Homo sapiens: one gene and its partner. The protein of the gene in region 2 interacts with the protein of the main gene of each other region in a pairwise test. Each region holds a gene or a part of one and is shown on either strand. Other genes may lie near its edges. The genes, in order: FZD6 and NPTX2.

Evidence for each region.
Region 1: the proteins of NPTX2 (region 2) and FZD6 interact in binary tests that used the Homo sapiens proteins (3 or more experiments, as listed by UniProt).

The regions. Positions count from the first base shown.
Region 1 is NC_000008.11:103,292,854-103,304,118, reverse strand, and holds the start of FZD6 (frizzled-6 isoform a precursor), read right to left. Parts: upstream 5,222-11,265; 5' UTR 5,124-5,221; intron 4,164-5,123; 5' UTR 4,012-4,163; coding exon 3,835-4,011; intron 1-3,834. UniProt on the Homo sapiens protein: Receptor for Wnt proteins.
Region 2 is NC_000007.14:98,610,193-98,621,574, forward strand, and holds the start of NPTX2 (neuronal pentraxin-2 precursor), read left to right. Parts: upstream 1-7,092; 5' UTR 7,093-7,269; coding exon 7,270-7,695; intron 7,696-9,450; coding exon 9,451-9,667; intron 9,668-11,382. UniProt on the Homo sapiens protein: Likely to play role in the modification of cellular properties that underlie long-term plasticity. Binds to agar matrix in a calcium-dependent manner.

The DNA of each region.
Region 1 (11,265 bases), on a different chromosome or scaffold from region 2:
GTGAATCCTGGAAATTCAATAGGAACCAGCAGAAACTAAAGGTAATCGGGTTGGAGGTGTAAAACCCAATCTGATCTTTAGAGAAGCTATAAAACACATTTTTAGTAAAAGCCAAGTTACAAGCAGCTATAATTTAGTACTCAACTGGAATATACACTTAAGGACTAAAGTACAATGTTTGAAAAAAAAAAAACTGACTCATATAGCTTATAATCCAACGGTCCGATCAAAAGTTGAATTCCTTTACTTCATATAAATAACTAGAAATGGTTAAAAATCAAATTCTTTAAGCAAATTCTAATGAATATGTGTAGAGCTAATGTGGGAAACAAAATAGAGGATGTCAACTGATATATTTCATTACAGCTAGGCTCAGACAGAATGAAAAAGAATGATATGTAAACCACCTAAAAATATTAGTATGTCTTTGACTTGGACACTGTAGATGATAGAAGTGGAATGTAAAGATTTGGAGGGAAAATTCCCTTTGCTACCTTATTGGGACATAAAATCCTACCTTTTTCTTTATTTAGCTTTTATGTAGCCTCTACCATGCTCAGAGGCATTGTACTTAGTATTAGGGATACAGATGAAAAAAAAACACCATCCCTACCTTCAACAAACTCTCAATCTAGAGACATGTAGATTCACTGTAAAATAGCATAAGAACAACTGTACATTATAAGTACTGTAAGGGTGTAGAGTGGGGTGATTAAATTTGCTCAGGAGAAAGGTGAAAGAAGGGTTCGCTAAAAACAGTTATTGCTTTAACTGAGAACTGAAGGAATTGAGCAGGTGAAGAAAGGTAGGTAGACAGACGGCTCACCAGAGGATAGAGTGTGTGTAAAGATACAGAGGTGATGGACAGTAATATGGATTTGAATTCTCCAAATAGGTCAGTTGGCTGAAGCAGAGTGTGCAATGTGGGAAGGTACAAGATGAGAGACTGGACAAGCAGCCAGGGTCCCACATGAAGGGCCTGGAGTGCTCTAGAACCAGGTCTTTTTTTCCCCAGCTTTAGGGAAAATGATGAAGGATTTTAACCCTAAAGTGGACTGCACAAATTTGAATTATAATAAAATCATTGTGGCACCACTAGAGAGACTGAAGATTAGGGAGTTAACTTTTGCTTTGTTTTTGTTGTTTTCATTTTGTTTTGTTGAGTTGAAGTCTCACTCTGTTGCCCAGACTGGAGTGCAGTGGAACGATCATAGCTCACTGCAGCCTCCAACTCTTGGGCTTAAGTGATCCTCCCACCTCAGCCTCCAGAGTAGATGGGACTACAGGTGTGCGCCACAGAGATTTTATTTTTGGTCTAACAAGACTTTGTATTCAAGGCACTTGTAAGAAGGAAAAAGAGAGACAGAGCTAAACAGAGGTAAAACAATCACCCAGTTTAATTTTTATCTAAATGAAGTTTGCAAATAAGTAGCAAAGTCTGAAATTTACACATTGCATTCTAAATCATAAGAAATATTATCTTGTTTATCCAATCAGGACAAGGGCCTAAAAAAAAACCAGTTAAAGATGACATTATGGTCCATGTAGACAGAGAAGACTATCAGATTAGAGTGCTCAAAGGGACAAATCGCAGCTTTTCTGGGTTTCAGTTTCTTCATCTGTATAATGAAGGGTTCGGGGGTTCTTTACCTGAGCTATATTTCAATATAATTTGTTTTCTTTGTAATCCTACACATTTTATTTATTTAAATATTAAAACTTCTCTTATCTTGAGAAGGGGTTAATGTCATAAAAAAGGTTAAGAAGCTCTATATGATCTTTAGGGTCACTTACAACTCTCAACTTATAGGATTTTGGACATTCAAATACAGGAACTAAAAGAGAATACTACTGTATATGGATAAATAGGAAAGGGGCAGTAGGAAAAACACAATAGTATACACTGAGAAATTACATATAGGGATTAAAAGTCTGAGCCAGGGTGACATTATTTTTGCCTTTTCATTTCTCTTTCCTTTCTTCTATAGACTTAGGTTAATGCTGGTATTGTGACTGCTTGATGGCTCTCTTCTTTTGTATCCTTAAATTTACTGAAGTATGATTTATAGCAAAAAAAAAAACTTCATTAGTAAAGGCTATGAGAAAGGTTAGTTATAAGTGGAAAATTATATAATGAAGAGATTGGTAGTATTAGCAATCATATAAAAGAGGTAAGAACAAAAAGCCTTCTTGATAATATCCAGGCACAAAACTACTTGGGAAAGAAGCTAGGTAAATTAAAAAGTAATTTTTTTGAAAGTAAAAAAAATTTGGTTTTAAAAAGACGTGCAGAACAAAGCTAGTTGCTACCATCTTATAATTACAGGCATTTAATAGCAGGGATGCATCTCTCTTGAGTCTAGGTGATATGAATTTATAAGGTCACTGTTAGCATTCAAACTTAAAATGGTCAGCCAGGTGCAGTAGCTCGCGCCTGTAATCCTAGCACTTTGGGATGCTGAGGCAGGACGGATCACTTGAGCCTAGGAGTTTGAGACCAGCCTGGGCAACATAGTAAGACCCCATCTCTAAAAGAAAAAACAAAAACCTTAAAATGTATGTAGTTACCACATACAAAGGAAATTAGATTTAAAAAATTTAGGAACACTATTAAAACATGAACACTACAAAACATATTATCATCAGCAAAAAAGTGAATGAATGATGTAATTATTGCTTCACAGTGTTCTCACTATATACTTCATATTGAATCAGATTGAACCATCAAAATGGTTCTGATTCATGAAAGTCTCAGTGCATCATTTGTTCAGTTCAAAAGGACATCTAGCATCAGTTTGAAAAAAACCACTGAAAGATAACAATAATATAATCTGTACTATCCTTTTAAATAACATCTACTTAGTATTTATAAGCTTTCCTATTCCAGACATGAGTCCACAATGAGGCAGTCAGACAACTATTCAACTGAACAACAATAGAAAACTTTCAAAGCTGCAAAATCAAATCTAATCAATTTTAAAAATAGTATATATATTAAATTTGTAGGGATTTCCTCTCTTAGCAACAATCTGAGGGAAAAAAGCCTTTACTATTCTGTTTTTCTGGAGAAAAACTACAAAAACAATGCATGTGTCTAGTTTCCTTCAGGAGACTTAACAACCTAACAAATCTGTATGGGAAGGCAGGTTCCTGTCTGTACAGGTAGCTTTCTTCTCACACTCCCTAGTAATTTGCATATCTCTAAACCAGAGACAGGTAACTAAGGCACCTAAGGCAATCTTTAGTGTCACTGTACTCCTCCCAAGTGGTTTCTTTTAACAAGTATCTTATAAAGAACATATAAGTGCTATGCTTAGAAAACAAAGTCACTTTTTAGTGACTTTGTGATAGCCTTAAAATACAGTCTACAGCAACAAAATATTCTGATAATTTATTTATTTCAGAAAAACTGTACCAAGTGAATATTACAACTACTTATAAAAACTTGTAAATTTCTTCAGTTTTAGTCCAGGCAATAAATATTACATGTTCAGTGAAGTAGAAAAATATTCAGAATTCGCATTTCTAGAAGAACTATCATACTTGATTCAGGAAAGCAAAATATTTTCTAGGTACAAGGTATTTAGAAATCATGTGTAACCATACTTCATTATATAAAATGAACCCTATTCAAACGAATCTACTAAACAGGGCCGCAAAGGTACACAAAACATAAGTCAGTAGAGGGATTTAATTTTCAAAAGGACTTTTCAAAACACAACTTGTACACAACTTGAAGAAATCGGCTCTGTTTAAAAATAGACTTATTTTTACTAGTTTATTCTAGAACAGAGCATAAACTACTATTCAATAAACGTATGAAGCACTACTCACCTCCATTTCCACCGCGGCAATACTCTGGTCATAATGACCCATCAGATTAGGGAAAAACGTCATGTTGTAGGCCATTTTCATACATCTGGGAACAGTAATTGGTTCACAGGTGAAGAGACTGTGCCCTCTTAGGAGGGGTAGAAAAATACACGTCAACAAAAATGTAAACATTTCCATTTTCTTCAAATTCCTGATTTTACCACATGGCTTGGATGAATCACTCTTTGCATCCTCAGAAGATCCCCATCCAAAGATAAAATGTTCAAATTCCTCATTTCACTATTTTACTCATTTTCAGGCTTTCCTGAAAATGAGTCCTGGGTCAATTACTGTAAAAACAAAAGGAGGGTGTATCAGCAACATTTGTCATAAACTCAAATGTGGAGTCAAAGTGCAGAGTTAAGATTTTCACCCCAGGTAACAAACACTGGAAAAACAACGGAAAATTCTGTCCTAACGAGATACTCTTCCACCTGCCTTAGCATGGAATATATCATTTGCTAAGGAAGCTGCACCTCTAGGAAACCGATGCTAGGAGGTTGGTGCTGTATGGAAGACAGGGTTAAAAAGAGGGAATGGCAAGAGTAAGATGGAGGAAAAAAGGAAAGCTGGTGATTCGGAGTAAATTATAAAGGATTAATATAAGCATACAATCTAAGGGCCCCTGTTGGAAAGCTTATTAAGTACAAGAAAACTAAGGCCCTGGGAAATTCCTTAAGACCCAAAGAGTTCTTAAACTTGTAAAAGACTCTGAAGAGTCAGTTTTTGTGGCAGTCTTCTGGGTATGTAGTTTTCTCGATTTTCGTAAGGCCAACTAGAGGGAGACTTTTAGGATTCCTCCAGTGGAGGAGCAACATTGCAGTTTTCACTGGCTAGGAGGGTGTAGTGCTGCCGTCGAAAGGAAAGTGCGCAAATCTGTCCCGGGGGAAGGGCGAAGGCAGTCCCCTTGCGGGAGGAAGGCTGTAGGCCCCGGATTACGAATTACCCGCGCCCCAACACACACTGATGCCCGGTCCGCCAGCGCCCCACACCCGGGAACCTGCCCCAGGCCTAGAGCCAGACAGCAGCGTTCCTGGCCTGCGCGGCGCCGCGGGGCCCCGGCATCGCCTTTCAGAGCCGGTTCCCGCTTCCGAGGAAACTCAGGTGCGGGCCGTCCCGCCGTTGCCTCCCCAGCACCTGCGGCTCCCGGCGCGCCTCATCCCAGCCGCGGCCCCTCGCCCCTCGAGGCCCTCCCCGCTTCCCCCGGCACCCGCCCGGCCCCTGCCCAGTCCCAGCCGTGGAAGCCTCACCTCGGGGGGCGGTCGAAGGCCGCTGTCCCTTCCCGTCCCCGTCTAACCCACCGTTCCCCCCAGGGACCTGAGACGGCTCCGGGGTTGCGTCCGGGACTGGAGCTGCCTCGAGAGCCGCACGGGGAGCGAGAGCTGAGCGATCCCGCGAGACTGCGCCGCCAGGTCGGGCGGGCAGGTCCGGGCTCGCGGCGGCGGCGGCGGCGGCGGCGGCGGCGGCGGCGGGACTGGCCCTGCGCCCGGGCACCGCCTGCGCTGCGCCGCCCGGCCTCACTCCGCGGCCCGCCAGGACCCGGCCCCGGTGAACGGGCTCGGGGTGCCGAGGTCCGGCTGCGGGGCCGGGAAGCCACCTCCACCTTGCCGTCTGTTACGACCCCCGAGGCGCAAGGCTGAGCCCCATCTCGCTATCCGGGTCCGGAGGGGTTCACCTTAGAAGGATTTTTTGAAGCTCTTGGCGCTGGCTCTAAAAGAACCCACTTCCTTGCGGATTTCAGGAGTCAAGAATCCTTAAACGGAGCCAATTTGCTTTGTAAAGCCAATTGCCCAAGTGACTTGAGTTCGAAAGGAGATACTTCCTGGACAACTGCTATAAAAACAACAACAAATACTTTTATTAATTCGGGGAGCCTGGTCACCAACTGGATGCTCAGGTAGCAGTGGGATTCCAGCCCTGGCGGGTCCCACAGTTTTATTGATACAAACCCTAATAGGAAGTTGAACTGCTGTAGAAATCAACCTAGTTTGGGGTACCAACTCTGTCATAGATATTAGATAAATTACCCTAATCTTTAAGGGGCATAGTTTCCTCACAATATAGGAATGACAATAGTTGTAATGATGGTTAACGTTAATTGAGCACTGGCTGTAAGTCAAATAGTGCCAAGTTCGTTACAAGTGTTTACACCTAACCTGTAAGGCCCTCCTATGAAACAGGCAGAATAGTATGAGAAGCAAATGAACTTGTAGAAGTACTTTGAAAAATGCAAAGTAACTTGTAGATGGAGGCTATTCTTGTCAGATAAATCATCCTGTTGCAGAAAAGGAATGTCATATTTCCATACCTAGAAGGACAACCCTGAACAACCAGAGTAAGAGTTTTGGAATCTGTGGGGAAAGACGAATTTGGAGTGGGGAATTCCTCCCCAGTTTTATCAAAAGCTTACTGATGTTGGGAGACAGGTAGTGATGAAGAAATATTAACATCATTAAGAGCTGGATAGTTGATGTATTGCAGAATAAATTTCTATGTAGGAAGAATATTTTCCCCTAAATTTCTAATTTTCTACATTGGAAGACTATTTCTCTCCAGTTTCTACGAACTTAATGAGATCTTTTTGTGATCAGGCTCTAGTGACTACCAGGCAGTGAAGTATCACTAAAAGTATCATTTAAAAACGATACTTTTTAAAATATCGTTTGAAAACGATACTTTTAAAGTATCATTTGAAAACGATAGTTTTGAAATTCAAGTGAATACTTGTTCCATTATTTGGAAGGAAAAATTGTAGTAAGTTGATTTATACAGAAGTAAATAAAGCCTGTTTTATTTTTCATTGTATTTAATTATATAGTGAGCAGTGATGAACTAGAATGATTTTTTTTTTGTCAGGATGGATTTGGAATACTTAGGCAATCATCTATATCATCGCTTGTCTTTCACTGTACAATTTCATCCCAATGGTACGAGATTAAGAACACAAACTTTGGAGTTCAAAATCCCTGGGTTCAAAACCTAGCTCCAGCATTTACTTGCTGTGTGAACTTGAGCAAATTATTCAGATCCTCTTTAGTTTCTTCATCTGTAAATATGGAACTATCTGACGGTTTTCCTCATTTTCCTTCTCTTTCTCTTTGCATTGTTCCTCTGGGCTGATGCTAGGGGACAGTGGTGACCAAAAGTAGAAGAAACAGACTTTTACTTTTAAAGGCTAATTTTGCAAGGTACAGAATTATAGGTTGGTAGTTTTTTTCTCTGAACACTTTTACTCCACCTCTCTTCTTGTCTACGTGGTTTCTGAGAAGTTGGATGTCATTCTTTATTTTTGTTCCTCTATAGGTAAGCTCCTCATCATTAAGTATATTGTTACCTTAGGGTTTTTGTAGATGTTCTTTAGCAAGTGAGAAAGTTCCCCCTCTGTCCCTAGTTTGCTGAAAGTTTTTATGATGAAAATGTGCTGGATTTTGTCAAATGCATTTTCTGCATCTATTGATGTGGTCATGTGATTTTTCTTCTTTAGTCTATTGGTATGGTAGATTACATGAATGAATTTTCAAATATTGGACCAGCCTTGCATACCTGGGATAAATCTTGGTTATGCTGTACAATTCTTTTTATGCATTGCTGGATTCTACTAGCTAATATTTTGTTGAGGATTTTTACATCTTTGTTCAAGAGATATATTGGTTTATAGTTTTCTTTGCTAGTAATGTTTTTGTCTGGTTTTGGTATTAGGGCAATGCTGCTAGGAAGTATTCCCCCTGCTTCTATCTTCTGGAAGAGATTTTAGAGAGTTGGTCTAACATTGTTGGTGACTGACATTAATTTGGGGAAATTTTCAGTCACTATTGCTTCAAATATTTCTTCTGTTCCTTTCTCTAATTCTTCTCCTGGTATTCCTGTTACACATATGTTATACTTTTGTAGTTGTTTCACAGTTCTTGGATATTGTTTCTTTTTTTTAAGTCCTTTTTCTCTTTATTTTTCAATTTTGGAAGTTTCCATTGACATATCCTCAAACTCAGAGATTCTTTTCTCAACCATGTCCAGTCTATTAATGAATCCATCAAAGGCATGCTTCATTTCTGTTATAGAATTTTATATCTCTAGCAATTCTTATTCTTCCTTAAAATTTTCATTTCTGCTTACATTAACCGTCTGTTCTTTCAAGTTGTCTACGTTTACCTTTACAACCCTTAGTATATTAATCACAGTTATTTGAAGTTCCTGGTCTGATAATTCCAACATCTCTGCCGTATGTGAGTCTAGTTCTGATGATTGCTTTGCCTCTTCAAACTGTGTTTTTTGCTCTGTAGTGTGCCTTGTAATTTTTAGTTGAAAGCTGGACATGATGCACTGGGTGAAAGGCACTGGAGTAAATGGGCTTCAGTGATGCGGTGTTAAGATGTGGGAGGAGGGGAAACATTCTATAGACCTATGATTAGATTTCAGTCTTAGTGAGCTTGTGTCCCTAGGCTGGAAACTTCACAAGTGCTTCTTAGTTTTTATCCCCCTTCTTGGGTGGGACAGGATGTCTAGAGGGGGCTGGGGTTGGATATTTCCCATCTATCAGCTTGGTTAGGCTCTGCTAAAACTGTAATAGGTTAGGCTCTGGTAGTTTCTCTTGAGGGCAGGCCTTGTTAAAAAGAACAGAATATTTTGACATATTTCAAAATGGTTCTTTTCACCTCTCCCTGTTGGATGTAGGAGGTGATTTTTCTTTGATTTTCACTGAGAGAACCTGGAAGAACTCCTGGAGGTAAAACTTACAAAAGTGTGAGTGTGCCCTCCAAAGACTAGGCCCCCTCCCCCTTTGTGTGTGTGTGTGTGTGTGTGTGTGTGTGTGTGTTTGTGTGTGTGTGTGTCTCACTCTGTTGCCAGGCTGGAGTGCAGTGGCGTGATCTTGGCTCACTGCAACCTCCGCCTCCTGGGTTCAAATGGTTCTCCCACCTCACCCTCCCGAGTAGCTGGGATTATAGGTGCACACCACCATGCCCAGCTAATTTTTGTATTTTTAGTAGAGACGGGGTTTCACCGTATTGGCCAGGATGGTCTCTGTCTCCTGACCTCGTGATCTCCCTGCCTAGGCCTCCCAAAGTGCTGGGATTACAGGCGTGAGCCACCGTGCCCAGCTGACCCCCTGGAGTTTTAAATTCTTAGTCTTGACCACCCTGAGCCTCTAGCAATTCATCAGTTACAGTTCTGGTCTTCCTACCCTGTACTCATGCCCCTGGAGGTTTCTGCCGGCGGGTTTCTGCTCTAGTAAATTGTGATTCTGTGTATCTGCCTGTTTGTCTCTCCAACTTTGGGGGCAGTGGCTTGCTCTGTGTCCTTACTTCTCTGCTAGATCTAGGAAGAGTTGTTGATTTTCAGTTTGTTCAACTTTCTACTTTTTGTCAGGACAGAGTAACAGCTAAGCTCCTTACATGCCACACTACAAACCTTAATTTCTCATTTTTAAAAATAGGTATGACTTTAAGAATTTTATTGATAATTCCAGTTGCTACTGCCTTAGCAGAGCAAAGTTTCTCCAAGTTAAAATCGAGTTGAAAAATCCCAAGAGCTGCAATAATTCAGAAAAGTTATGTAATTTGGCATTAGTATTCATAGAAGACTGACTATATGAAAATTTTTATTATGACAATATAATTAAGGGATTTTGCTAAAATGAAGGGAAGAAAGTAAATTTCACAGGGGTAAATATGTAACTTGTAAACTGTGTAAGTTTTTATTTAATTACTTACCCAAACATCTCCAGCCTATCACCGGACTATGCAAACACGTGCCATAATAATTGAATTTATCTACTTTTGATATTTTGCCTACTCATTAAAACATAGCTTTACACATTAAAAACATTTCTGTCTTTATAAAGGTACATTTTTTCAAGGTAGGAGGATAGAACATATTTCAAGTAGCAGTTTGTTAGTTTGATATATGAATTTTAGCTATGTAGACATATAGCATGGTGTCCTCCTTTGTACTCCTGCCTGGGCCCTGTACACATACTGGGGGATAGGCCGGCTTGTGGCCACTGACCTGATGCTGAGACATTAGCAGTTTGAGGAACAAACAGCAGTAGAGGGACCCCAGCTGGAGGAGGCTGGGCTGAGCAGAGGCATAGAAGAGTACAGAAGCAAAGAGGAACTTGGGAGGAAGCAGTTAGAACTTCCAGTGGTATGAACCCCTTCCCTCATGAAGTTCTCTCCCTAATACTTCTTTCCCTAACCCTTGAAAGCTCTATCATGGCTTCACTCCCTCCATGTAACATTGTGAATTTGATCATGCACTGACTTAATTTAGGGAAGTTTATGCGCATGACGTAGAGGATAGTTTCTATTTAAAAACTAACTTTCACTTGAAATACATTCCCTGTCACTCCCTACTCTGAAAGCTAATTGCTGCAGTGTTTGTAGCACAGCAATTAACCTTTGGGTTGTGTCCATTATGGTTGTATCCATTATGGTTGGCCAGAAATAATAGACCTTCTAATTACTACCTCCAGTGTTACTGGAAAAATAAAATTTTCAGTGCAGTAGTAACATGACACTGCAGGAAAGAGCCACATATTTTAATGACAGTTTGATGTATAAGACTGCCTCTTTGGAGCTCTGGTATAGTCATTGCAAATAAGAGATTCATAATGCTAAAGAAAAACAGCCTCAGCTCTATTAATGCTTTGAGTTACATTTTGTGCCTGTGAGTTTGCCCTGCTGGGTTTGTTTTCAGTGGATTCAAACCTACCATCTGGTCATTTTAAATATTTAATATGTTATCCTTTTTTTAACCAAAGCAGCCATGTTAAGTCGAATATTAGAAATAGTATTTTCCCTTTATAAAGCTTGTAGCATCTAGAAAAGGGCTTTTTGCCCCAATTTAGTAATTTAGACAATAGCTAAATTAATTTTCTTTGATGTGCAGAAGTAACTTTATACCAATTGTGGTTCATGGGCTGCTAATAACTCTGATTTTTTTTTTTTTGATACTTTAAGTTTTAGGGTACATGTGCACAATGTGCAGGTTAGTTACATATGTATACATGTGTCATGCTGGTGTGCTGCACCCATTAACTCGTCATTTAGCATTAGGTATATCTCCTAAAGCTATCCCTCCCCCCTCCCCCCACCCCACAACAGTCCCCAGAGTGTGATGTTCCCCTTCCTGTGTCCATGTGTTCTCATTGTTCAATTCCCACCTATGAGTGAGAATATGCAGTGTTTGGTTTTTTGTTCTTGTGATAGTTTACTGAGAATGATGATTTCCAATTTCATCCATGTCCCTACAAAGGACATGAACTCATCATTTTTTATGGCTGCATAGTATTCCATGGTGTATATGTGCCACATTTTCTTAATCCAGTCTATCATTGTTGGACATTTGGGTTGGTTCCAAGTCTTTGCTATTGTGAATAGTGCCGCAATAAACATA
Region 2 (11,382 bases):
AACCTTCATTTCTTTCCCACAATGCTATTATGGCTGTGTACAATGACATCCAAGAGATATTTATTGAAAGAAGGAAGTACATCAGACCTAGATGTTGCCATTAAAGAGCTCATAATCCAGTAGAAAAGATAATTATAATGCAGGGCTTAAAGTACTAAGAGAAATAAAGAACGTTATTGTGTCATTTCAAACTGAGCAAAATCAGGGTAAGCTTTGTGGAGGGGGTAGTGTGTAAGCAGAGCCGTGAAGGATGAGAGTGGGTCTTGTGGTCCTAGACATGCAAGAAAGATCATTCCAGATCTGTCTCCAGATATGGGAAACAACCTGAGTCCCAATGCCAGAGGATGAAAAATATGGGTCATTTGTGAAAAGCATAAGTTTACTTTGGAGTGAGGGTAGATCAAGGGATATAGTAAAAATTGGAATGAATAGGTGGGTGTGGGGAAAAATGATGGAGACTAAAGAGTTTACACATTTGCATAGAGAAATAATGAAGGTTTCTGAGCAGTGCAGATCAATGCTTTAGTGCTGTACTTCAGGAAAACTGACCTGGCAATAGAATGTACAAGCTGAAATGGACATTGTAGAGCTGAATCGTTCAGTTAGAGGCAACTGTATAGTTTAGAACAGAAGTAATGAGATTGTAGCAGTGAGAATAGAGTTGGCATATTGTACAAGCAGAATTAGGACTTAGAAATGCACTAGAATTTGAATAAAATTGGGGGTGGAGGAGATACAGATGTCTCCAAAGTTTTGAATTTGAATGACTTGGAAAGCATTAATGACATAAGAAATAGGAAACAGGAGGAAGAATAGAGGGAAAATAAAGAGAACAATAAATTTACCTGACATATTGAGTTAGAAGTATGGGTAGTTTATCTTTGAGATGTCCAACATGCGGTTGGTTTATTATAATCTGGAACTCAGTATAGATAGTTTCTGCTACGGTTTGTGTCCCTCAAAATTCCTGTATTACGTTTACCTATGTAACAAACCTGCACATCTGGCACATGTATATCAGAACTTAAAGTTAAAATTTAAAAAGTTAATGTGTTAAAAACTTAACCCCCAAAGCAACAGTTTTGGGAGGTGGGACCAAGTATGGATTAACTGGGTCATGAGGAGGGAGCCCTCATGAATGGACTATTGCAATCATCTTAGGAGTGGGTCAATTATCACTAGAGTGGGTGGTTATAAAAGCAAGCCCAGCCCTTGGTAGTTCTCAGATATATGCACTTGCTTCTGCCCTCCACCTTTCCACTATGGACCAGATACCAGCACCATGCTCTTGGACTTGCCAGCCTCCAGAACTATGAGCCAAATAAACTTCTTTTATTTACAAGTTACTGAGCCTGTGGTATTCTGTCATAGAAGCAGAAAATGAACTAAGACAGAATCATTAATATAACTTAAAAACTTCAAACTGTTAAGGTAGAGAGTACAGTGAGAGAAAGGAGAGAGCTATGGACAGTTCAACTTTGAATATGTGTGTTGAGGAGGCAGGTAATGAAAGAAGGTCCAGAAAAGAAGAAAGAAAGGAAAAAATGTTCAGAAATCAAAGAAGAAAACCAGAAGAATACAATATCATAGAAACCAATGTTGGAAAATTCTAATAAAAAAGACTTAGCCAACAGTGTTCAATGCTGATGAGTTCCAGGAGAATGACAGAAAAGGGGACATTGAAATTAATGGCAAATTATTGATTTTTAAGAAAGCAGTTATTGAAGAAGAAACCAAGCATTCTAATAGGTTAATGAGTATGTTAGGGAGTGATACAGAGAAAAGAGCCCTTACTGGAAACCAGAGGGCCTGAGTTCCAGCATGGCCCTGCTGTTAAGTAGCCCTATGATCTTTTTAGCATGGTTTTGAACTTATTTTGTGGGGAGGGGAAGTCTTTACTTTAACATAATTTTAATTGACATGTAATAATTGTACATATCTATAGGACACAGAGTGATATTTCAATGCATGCATACAATGTATAATGATCAAATCAGGGTAATTAGCATATCAATCACCTCAAACATTTATCATTTCTTTGTGTTGGGTACATTCAAAATCCTCTCTTCTAGCTATTTGAGAATATATAATAAACTATTGTTAGCTATACTCACCCTACAGTGCTGTAGAACACCAGAACCTAGTCTTCCTATCTAGCTGCCATATGACATTTTAACCTTTCTCAAACTGTTTCCTAGTCTTCAAAATTCTATAAAATATCTTCAAACTCTCACTTTCAAAGATTCATACAAGCTACCTGTGTGCCTGAATCATACAGAGATATTGAGCCACATGTCTTTATCAGAAATAGGCCAATTTCACCACTTGTAAGTTATGTGAAAGTGGGGCACTTTCTTGGTGTTTCCTAATATAGAGAAATTGAGACTACATTCATAGAAGATTTTCTCAAAGCAAACTAAGTTGATGATGTTCCTTCCTTCAGCCTCCTCCCACTCCCAGTCTATTATCCCTTACTTTTAAAAACTGAGGTAAGACATTATCCCTGGTATATCCGGTGACTCGTTCTATTGCTTGAAATCAGAGGATGCCACCAAAAGCCTTTTTTGGTTTGTTGAAATCAGTTGAGTAATATGAACAACCAATTCCCCTAAATCACGGCTCTCTAGCTAAATGTGATAATATACTTGTACAGGGACACCACTTCCTGAAACTCAGTGTCTCATCTCACATGCTCCCAAAATTTAGCCAGAAATATGTTATTCAAGAAGAACACAGATGCACTGAAGCAAGAACATTTTGCTTTATCTGAGGGGCTTATATCTATTTGGGTCCCGTAGCAACACAAATTCAGAATCACTGAGATGTTAAATATTACAAATTTTTTAGTTGGGTCCAGGCACATAGTCTGGTGATATATCCCAAGTGTAGGTGTGAAACAGTTCACTTTGACTGAATCCTCTGATTAAAGCTCAATAATACCATGCTTTATCTTTTTTTTAAAAAAAAAAAAACCCACAAAGTAGTATATCTTTATCTTGCTGAGACACCAGTATATTTTCCTGAAGTTTTCATCCCTTGTCTTTCCTCTTGGGAGGCTGGCCTGTTCTTTCTTAAGTATTCTTGCCTTATTTAACTCTAAAGAATATTGCAGAAAGGGAAGAATTTTTTTCAACTTTGTTTTTAAAGGGACTTACATAATACAGGTCTAAATTCAGTGGAGAAAAGGGGAAGAAAAGGACAATTATCATCTATTGTGCACTGGCTATATGCCAAACATGTTCACTTACATTATCTCACTCAAGCCTAACAATATTTTGTAGTAAATTTAGCTTTGATTTTAGAGATGAGAAAACTGAGGCTGGGAGAGGTTAAATCATTCTCTCAAGGTAAAGTGGCAAGTCATAAAACTGGGACTGAAACTAAAGCTGTCTGACTCCAAAGCTCAAGCTCTTTCCACACTACCATGCAGTTCAATCTAGTGGGGAAAAAAATCCACTCTTGAAAGCGTCTTAGCATTTTAAGCATAAATGTGTGTTAGTAGGGATCCTCTGGAGCTTCCAAATTCTATTTTATCTGCACTGAACTTTACACACACACACACACACACACACACACACACGTCTATTTCCCCCTTCCAATTGAAATTCAGCACCGAGGACAGTTCCCGAATCATGTTTGCAGGAAGCTGTCCTTGGATTCTGTTAGAGCTCACACTCTCATTCTTGACTTCCCAAGTGGCACTGAGAAAGAGAGAAGGAAATGTAAGAAAGTATGAGATGGGATCCTCTCACACCATGGTGGAAATTAGCACATTTCCCAGAAGACCAAGATAAAAATGCATGTGAGAAGAACAAGAGAACCAAACAGATGGGGCAATAAAATGGAGGCGGAATGAGCTCATCAGGATTCCCAGCACACGGTTTAAGTCCATACTGGGCTCACAGCTGACCTGGGACCAGCCGACATAGTGAATGAGTGGGTGGTTACTATGCTGCAGCATCAGTTACACTAAGAGATTAGGTGGAGCTGATTCACTGCTGCAGATCTGCACGACTTTTCAAGTGGAGGAAAATCTGTGGGCCCTGGTCTCTGCCACTCACATAACCATCCTCATGGGTAGCATGAGTCATACATGCAGGATCTTTCAGGTAGACAAAGTTGTTGTGCTGTGAGTAAACCCAGTATGAGCTTTCGTGTTGTCGAAAGCAGGTTTTAACCACAACTACGGCGTCTCCGTGTATGAAGGTTTACCTGCTGTACTACAAAACGACCCTGCCTTTCCACATTCACCTTTGGCTACAGGTGGTTAATAACACACACAGAAAAAACAAGTTTCTGAAACGTTCCTCACACCAACAGTGATTCCTTCTTTTTCAAACTATCATGCTCTTGAGTACAGCCAAAGCACCTTTAGACAGTTGCGTCTAATCCCCTTATCTTTTTAAAATTATTATTATTATTTTGAGATGGAGTCACGCTCTGTCACCAGGCTGGAGTGCAGTGGCATGATCTTGGCTCACTGCAACCTCTGCCTCCTGGGTTCAAGCGATTCTCCTGCCTCAGCCTCCCAAGTAGCTGGGACTACAGGCGGGCGCCACCACACCCAGCTAAATTTTGTATTTTTAGTAGAGACGGGGTTTCACCATGTTGGCCAGGATGGTCTCGATCTCTTGACCTTGTGATCTGCCTGCCTCGGGCTCCCAAAGTGCTGGGATTACAGGTGTGAACCACCGTGCCCAACCCCCGCCCCTCCCTTATCTTATATGCAAGAAAACTGAAGTCCAGAGGAGAAATGACTTGCCCCAAACCACTTAGCTAGTGACAGAGTTAGAATTAGCACTAGATCCCTCATTCCTAAGCCAGCAGGCTTTTCATTGCACCAGGAAGATAAAATAAAACTGTAAATAGCATGTACTCTGTTAACTAAGCCTCTAATTATACTGCCTCCAAAGAAAATAACATTTCAAATGTCTGGGTCTTTCCATTTGAGCTTTGGCAATTTCACTGATCACTTCTCATACTGGAATCTCTTTTAAGACGTTTAGGAGTAATTATATTGGGATATATGCTATTTTTACTCTTGTACACTGCTTTCTTTGTTCAGGAGGAAATTAGAATTCTGGAAAGATACTTGATTTTGTTTAATTATTAAAGGAACAAGCTTCTACTTCAAGTAGTTGCAAATATGAATGTATCAGTCTGTGTGTCAAGAAAGGATATATGGAACAATACAGGAACGATAATACTCTATTGTCACATCCAATTAAGGGCCACCTAGGTCTACAAGTAAAGAGGAACATCAAAGCTATGAGTGAAAATGGAAAAGTCACATCGTTATCTGAATAATTTTGAAAACGTCTGGATTTGGTGCCTTATGAATCATCTGAAATGTAACAAGGCATAAAGTGCTTTGCAACCCTGTTGCCTTCATTATTGTAATTTGTGCATATGTAGGTTTATTTGAACTTTTTCGAGTTTTCATCCAGCTGAAAAAGGATGTAGGAAGAATGAGTCCAGTCAAGGTCATACTTAACAAGGTGAAACTGACACCTCCTGGGGATGCAGGCTAACAGAAACATGAGCCCATTACTCACCCCAAATCTCCCATCCATACCTTTTTCTGCTAATGAATATTCTTACCTGAACCATCATTACTTCCATTGTCCTCTGCTTTGGATACCTTGCAGACCAGGTTCCTGTCTCTCATTTTTATCCACGAAGAGATTTTCAAGAATAGAACTTTTCTTATAATTTAGCAATAATGTCCTTGAAAACCCCACAACTATTTACATAATAGAAGCTATTGTTTGAAGTGCAAAGCAGGTCAGAATTTGGTTTCTAGAGATTAATCACTGCAGTCTAGTTTATATTATCATAATAATTTCATTTATTTTGGTACAATTTGCTTTCAGAATCAACCTCGGCTTCTGCGCACAAGTGACAAATCCATTTGTTTGTGGTATAATGGATAACGTGATTAATGACCTTGCAACAGGATTTCTTAAAAACATAGAGAGGAAAAGAAATAAAGATTTCCATTTATAAATGTGCAGTAAACCAGCTCAGTCTGTAGCTGTGCACCAAAATCCCTCTGAACTTGTTTTAAGCCACAGATTTGGAGAGATTCTGAAACAAATTTGCTCCTGACTTTTGGGGGTTTCTGCTCATATCTGCTGTCTCCAAGAAGCTGAGGGCAGTGGCCTCACTTCGAGGAAGTGGTGACACTGCGGGCCCTCCTGGTTACAAGGACCGGGCACTGTTGGACCACGTGGCTCCATCATGATGACTCCAGTTAGATGTCACCCCGCCCCTGAGCTCAGGTCTTGCTGAATAAGGTCACCGCCCAGGGGGCAGTCGATGAACACGCGCGCGAGGGCTCTGCGAGTGGCCTCGTGACTTTGTCCCTAACTCCGGGTGTCCCCTCCTTCCCATCAGCGTCCGGCGCCTGGTCCTGGTCCCGGTCCCCGAGGCCCCCGGGATTCTTCCCGAGCGTTTTCCGAGTTGGCGCGGGGGGTGGAGGCGGGGCCATGGAGCGCGTCCCGGGGACCGTTGCATCCGGAGGCGGCCGTCGTGCGGCTCCTTCCCGCCTCGAGAGTGAGGTGGCCGGGCCTTGACGAGAAGGCCCACGCCTGCCGCGGGGGTGGCTCGCGATGGCAGTCGGGGTTCGAGTCCCGCCTGGGGGGCTGCTCCTGCTGGAGAAAACGCCTCCCTGAGGGCGGCGGCAAACGCGCAGCGAGGCCCCGTGCCGCGCCAGAAGCCACCCTGAGAAAGGGGCACCGGGACACCGAGGGGTTCCCACTTTCTCCTCAGCCTGTGACGCCCGCGTCCTCGGGTGGGTTCGAGGGGCGCCTGGGCACGGCCAGCCGAGGCTCTCGAGAGCCCCAGTGTCGTTTTCCACCTCAGGCCTCCTTTCCTGAGGCAGAGCCCGGGACCTCGCGCTCTCGCCTCAGGCTCCGGCCCACGCTCCCGCCCGGCCGCCAGGCGCGCAACGGAAAGCGCCCCCGCCCCGCCCCGCTCCGCCCACTGCGTGACGCGCACCCGGCCGAGCCAATCAGAGCTCGTGGCGCGCGCCCCACACGCCGGCCCCCTCCGCCCCTCAGCTTAAGAAAGGGCGCGCGGACCCGGCAGGCCAGAGTGCCGAGCAGCGCGGTGGGTGCGGCTGTGAGACGGCAGGAGACTTCTGCCCCGCGGTGCACGCGACCCTCGAGACGACAGCGCGGCTACTGCCAGCAGCGAAGGCGCCTCCCGCGGAGCGCCCCGACGGCGCCCGCTCGCCCATGCCGAGCTGAGCGCGGCAGCGGCGGCGGGATGCTGGCGCTGCTGGCCGCCAGCGTGGCGCTCGCCGTGGCCGCTGGGGCCCAGGACAGCCCGGCGCCCGGTAGCCGCTTCGTGTGCACGGCACTGCCCCCAGAGGCGGTGCACGCCGGCTGCCCGCTGCCCGCGATGCCCATGCAGGGCGGCGCGCAGAGTCCCGAGGAGGAGCTGAGGGCCGCGGTGCTGCAGCTGCGCGAGACCGTCGTGCAGCAGAAGGAGACGCTGGGCGCGCAGCGCGAGGCCATCCGCGAGCTCACGGGCAAGCTAGCGCGCTGCGAGGGGCTGGCGGGCGGCAAGGCGCGCGGCGCGGGGGCCACGGGCAAGGACACTATGGGCGACCTGCCGCGGGACCCCGGCCACGTCGTGGAGCAGCTCAGCCGCTCGCTGCAGACCCTCAAGGACCGCCTGGAGAGCCTCGAGGTAGCGGCCCGCGGGGAGCGCGGGGGACCTGGAATGGGGACGCTCCCGAGTCGGGGGCGGAAGACTCGGGAGGATGGGGAAAGGGGGCCTGGCCCTGGGGAGGGTGTGATCGTCCGTGGGGGTGAGCTGGACTTGAGGGTGAAAGGCGGGGATCTAGATCCTGCTCGGGAACTCCCCTGCGTGGTATCCCTTCCCACACCGCTGCTCTTGCTGGAAGGAAACGTTTAAATTCCACCCCCGCGCGTCGGGACTGCCAGCGGGATCCGCCGAGCACTTCCCGAGGTCCGGGCTAGCGAACCCAGACGGCCAAGCCGCGGGCGCCAAATACCCGGGGACGCGGTAGCCTCTATCCTCTTGCAAATCTCCAAATCTCCGCGAGCCGGGATGCGCTCCCGCAGGCCGTGCGGGTTGCTGCGAGGCTGCCGCGGGAGGTCAGCTGCCCCGGGCATGTGGTGTTTCTTTCTTTAAATCAGGTCAGGCTGAGCTAGAGGGGGCGGAAGTCTGGGGGCGGAGGTCGCAGGGAGGCGAGCGCAGGGGGTCACCGGCGACCCCAGAGCGCGCATTAGAGGGGCAACCTCTGGTTAACTTCAAAGACTCCCGTGTCTGCAAGTTGGACCATTTTAAGGTGCTCTTCCGGATTGCTTCAGGGGAAGGGACCTCATTCCCTTCTCTCTCTCTCTCTCCCCCCCTCCCCCCCTCCCCCTCCGTCCCCCCCCCCCGCCCCCCGCTCCCGCCTCCGTCTCATCTCTATCTCTGAAAATGCGTGCAGTTTGGAACTTTGAGAGAAAAATCTTCAATTATTTTTCATCTTTAGGCTCCACCCTTTTTAAGAAGTGTGGACACTGCTGTTAATAGCCTTTGTGAAAATACTTCTCAGCAAAACTAGGTTTAAATTACAGGTGGTAATTATTGCAAAAATGACTCTAGGGTTTCTTTTGGCGTGAGGGCTGAATACAGTATTTCCAGCATCTGTATATCCCCTGATTCATTGTGATTGCTAACAGCTAACATTTCTGGAGCACTAAATATGAGTCAGGCACATCATTTAATTTTTTAATCCTTGGAACAATGAATGGCATGAGGCAGGTCCCATTATGTGCATTTCACAATTTGGAACACTTTGTGGAGAAAGGTAAATAGCTTGCCATGAACTCATGGGTAGGCAGCCTGCCACAGCCTCCAGAACCACATGATGGTAGGGGAGAAAGAGAAATAGGAAGTGAGGATTTAGAAACAGCATTAAAAACAAAGATTGCTGGAGTTCAGAATAGCAACGTTTTAGATCTGTCATTTTCCAGAAACATCTCTGCATGCATAGTTATTTACCTTGGTGCCAGACCGGAACTTGGGGGCTGTTTTCATTTCTAGGTGAAAGCTCCTTGGCTTTGTGTAACCATCGATTTACTCTTAAAAAAGAAAAAAAATCCTGGAGCTGAGTTTTGGTCTCTACCCAACATAGAATTCTAGGCGTTGGTTAGAATATTGACTTTTTAGTAAGAGGAGAAAAACGGCTTTTTGAGAAGGGAAAATTAGATTCACAAGTTTCAAATATTGCAGCAAAGTAATTCTTATCTGACTTTGAAATCTTTTCCATACCAAAAAAGCATCAGTGAGATGCTCCCCTGCCTGCCAGTGGCAAGATTCAGGGCTTGCGTTTTGGAAGCTTCTCCCTGTGTGGTCGGGCCATCACAGCCACATTTCACAATTTCTTTTTAACTCTTTCTGTGCCCCTCCCTCCTCCCCGGTGGCTGAAAGCACCAGCTCAGAGCAAACGTGTCCAATGCTGGGCTGCCCGGCGACTTCCGCGAGGTGCTCCAGCAGCGGCTGGGGGAGCTGGAGAGGCAGCTTCTGCGCAAGGTGGCAGAGCTGGAGGACGAGAAGTCCCTGCTGCACAATGAGACCTCGGCTCACCGGCAGAAGACCGAGAGCACCCTGAACGCGCTGCTGCAGAGGGTCACCGAGCTGGAGCGAGGTGTGTGCCTGGCCTGTTTCTCTGTCTGGCAGTGGCCTGATTTTCACCACTTGTGGTCAGACATGCGATTCTGGTTGATGGACAGCAGGGATTGTGACACCACATGGGCCTGGTTCCCGAGTGTGTGAGCAAATAATAAAGGCGACTGAACAAGGTCATCTCAGGAATGAGCTGCCAGCCCCACTGGCATTATCCAGGGAAAAGTGAAAGTGTCCAGGACCAGCTTCGATAAGCAACCACACGGGCGTTTCAGTCCTTTGTTAACTAGTCCTGGCAGCGGATTCTGTGTATCTTTCTCTTCTCTGCTCACACTGTGGTGAGTAAGTTTCTCCCACAGGAGACAGAGTGGGAGGGATCAGGGGATAATTCAGATTGCGTCATCAACCCCCAAACCACTGGGTGGCTTGGGTTTGAAGTTGTAGGTTTGCCCGTAGTGGGTGTTTATAAGACTGGAATTTTCCCAGATGCACTAAGCTGATGAAGCCACTTCCCCATGACTCCGTTTCATGCATTGATAGGAGGATGCCCAATAGCAGAACATCCAATGACTTTGGCCGAGGTGGGGCAGATGGAGAAGGGGCTGGTGTTACTGTTCCATTTTACAGCCAGCATCCACAAGCCACAGGTCTCTTTCATCCCTTTCCTAGTCTCTTCCTACAGAAAAACCTATCCTTTCTTCCTGGCCCTTCTCAGAAAAAGGTGAGTATGGCTTACCTGTTAGATCTGTTAGATTCTTGAGTTTCCAAAAAATCTTCCTTTCTGTCTCCCCTCTGTTGCTGGGTGGCCTCAGGAGCCATCCCTGAAGGTAAAGCAGCCGTTGCTGTGGCCCTCCTCCCATGACAGGAGGAGGGAACGTCTAGGCACAGGTGAGCGTGGCTCCGTGGACCCAGCCTGAGCCACAGTGGATCCTCGGGACACCCAGGGCTATGGAGTTGGCACACTAAAGGTAGTTTGCCTCTCGAAAGGGGAACTGTGGAACGAGAGGAGGGCTCCATGAGAGACCTTGGTGGCTGTAAACCTCCCTCTGCACAGTGGCCAAGTTGCCATGAGGAGGTGGGTAAATAGCAGAATAGTGAGCCAGAGCTTCAGTCATGCCAGGCGGGAGCTCAGACTCCTGGTATGCCCGTTTCATAGATGAGAAAAAGACTCCGTTCTCAGTGGGACATGTATCTTTTGGGGAGGGGGCCCAAAGTGGGTCCTGGGCCACTAGCTGGCAAACAGTGACAGTCACATCAACCTGCACCTCCTCCTTCTCTTTCTCTCACTCAAGGCCAATGTCATTTCACTGGGCTTACTCCTAAGGTAAGCCATCATCATGGCTTTGGCCACCCAGAAGCTGCCACTTTGTGACTGTCCCTTTCATCCCCAGCCTGTCCATTACCAGCCAGAAAGAAACAGTCAGGACTCAGACCCCGCCAGCCTGACTCCTGACCCTTTAGTTTCCCAGCAAGCCCTCAAAGCTCATCTGGCACAGAGGGGAAGCTCACCTCTACGAGGGCAAAGACGCTGCTGGCCATTTATGCACCCCAGAGAGGCAGCCCAGCCTCTCTTCATCCCACCGTGGGAACTCTAGAATCCTTCTGTGAGCTCCACCAACTCAGCTCTGGGATGTGCTTTAAGGAAAGTGATCATTTGCAGACCAGTTTGTCTTCTGGGCAATTCTGAGTGTCCTGTTTGTGACAATTGTAGAGAGATGAGTAAACGCCCAGCCCTCC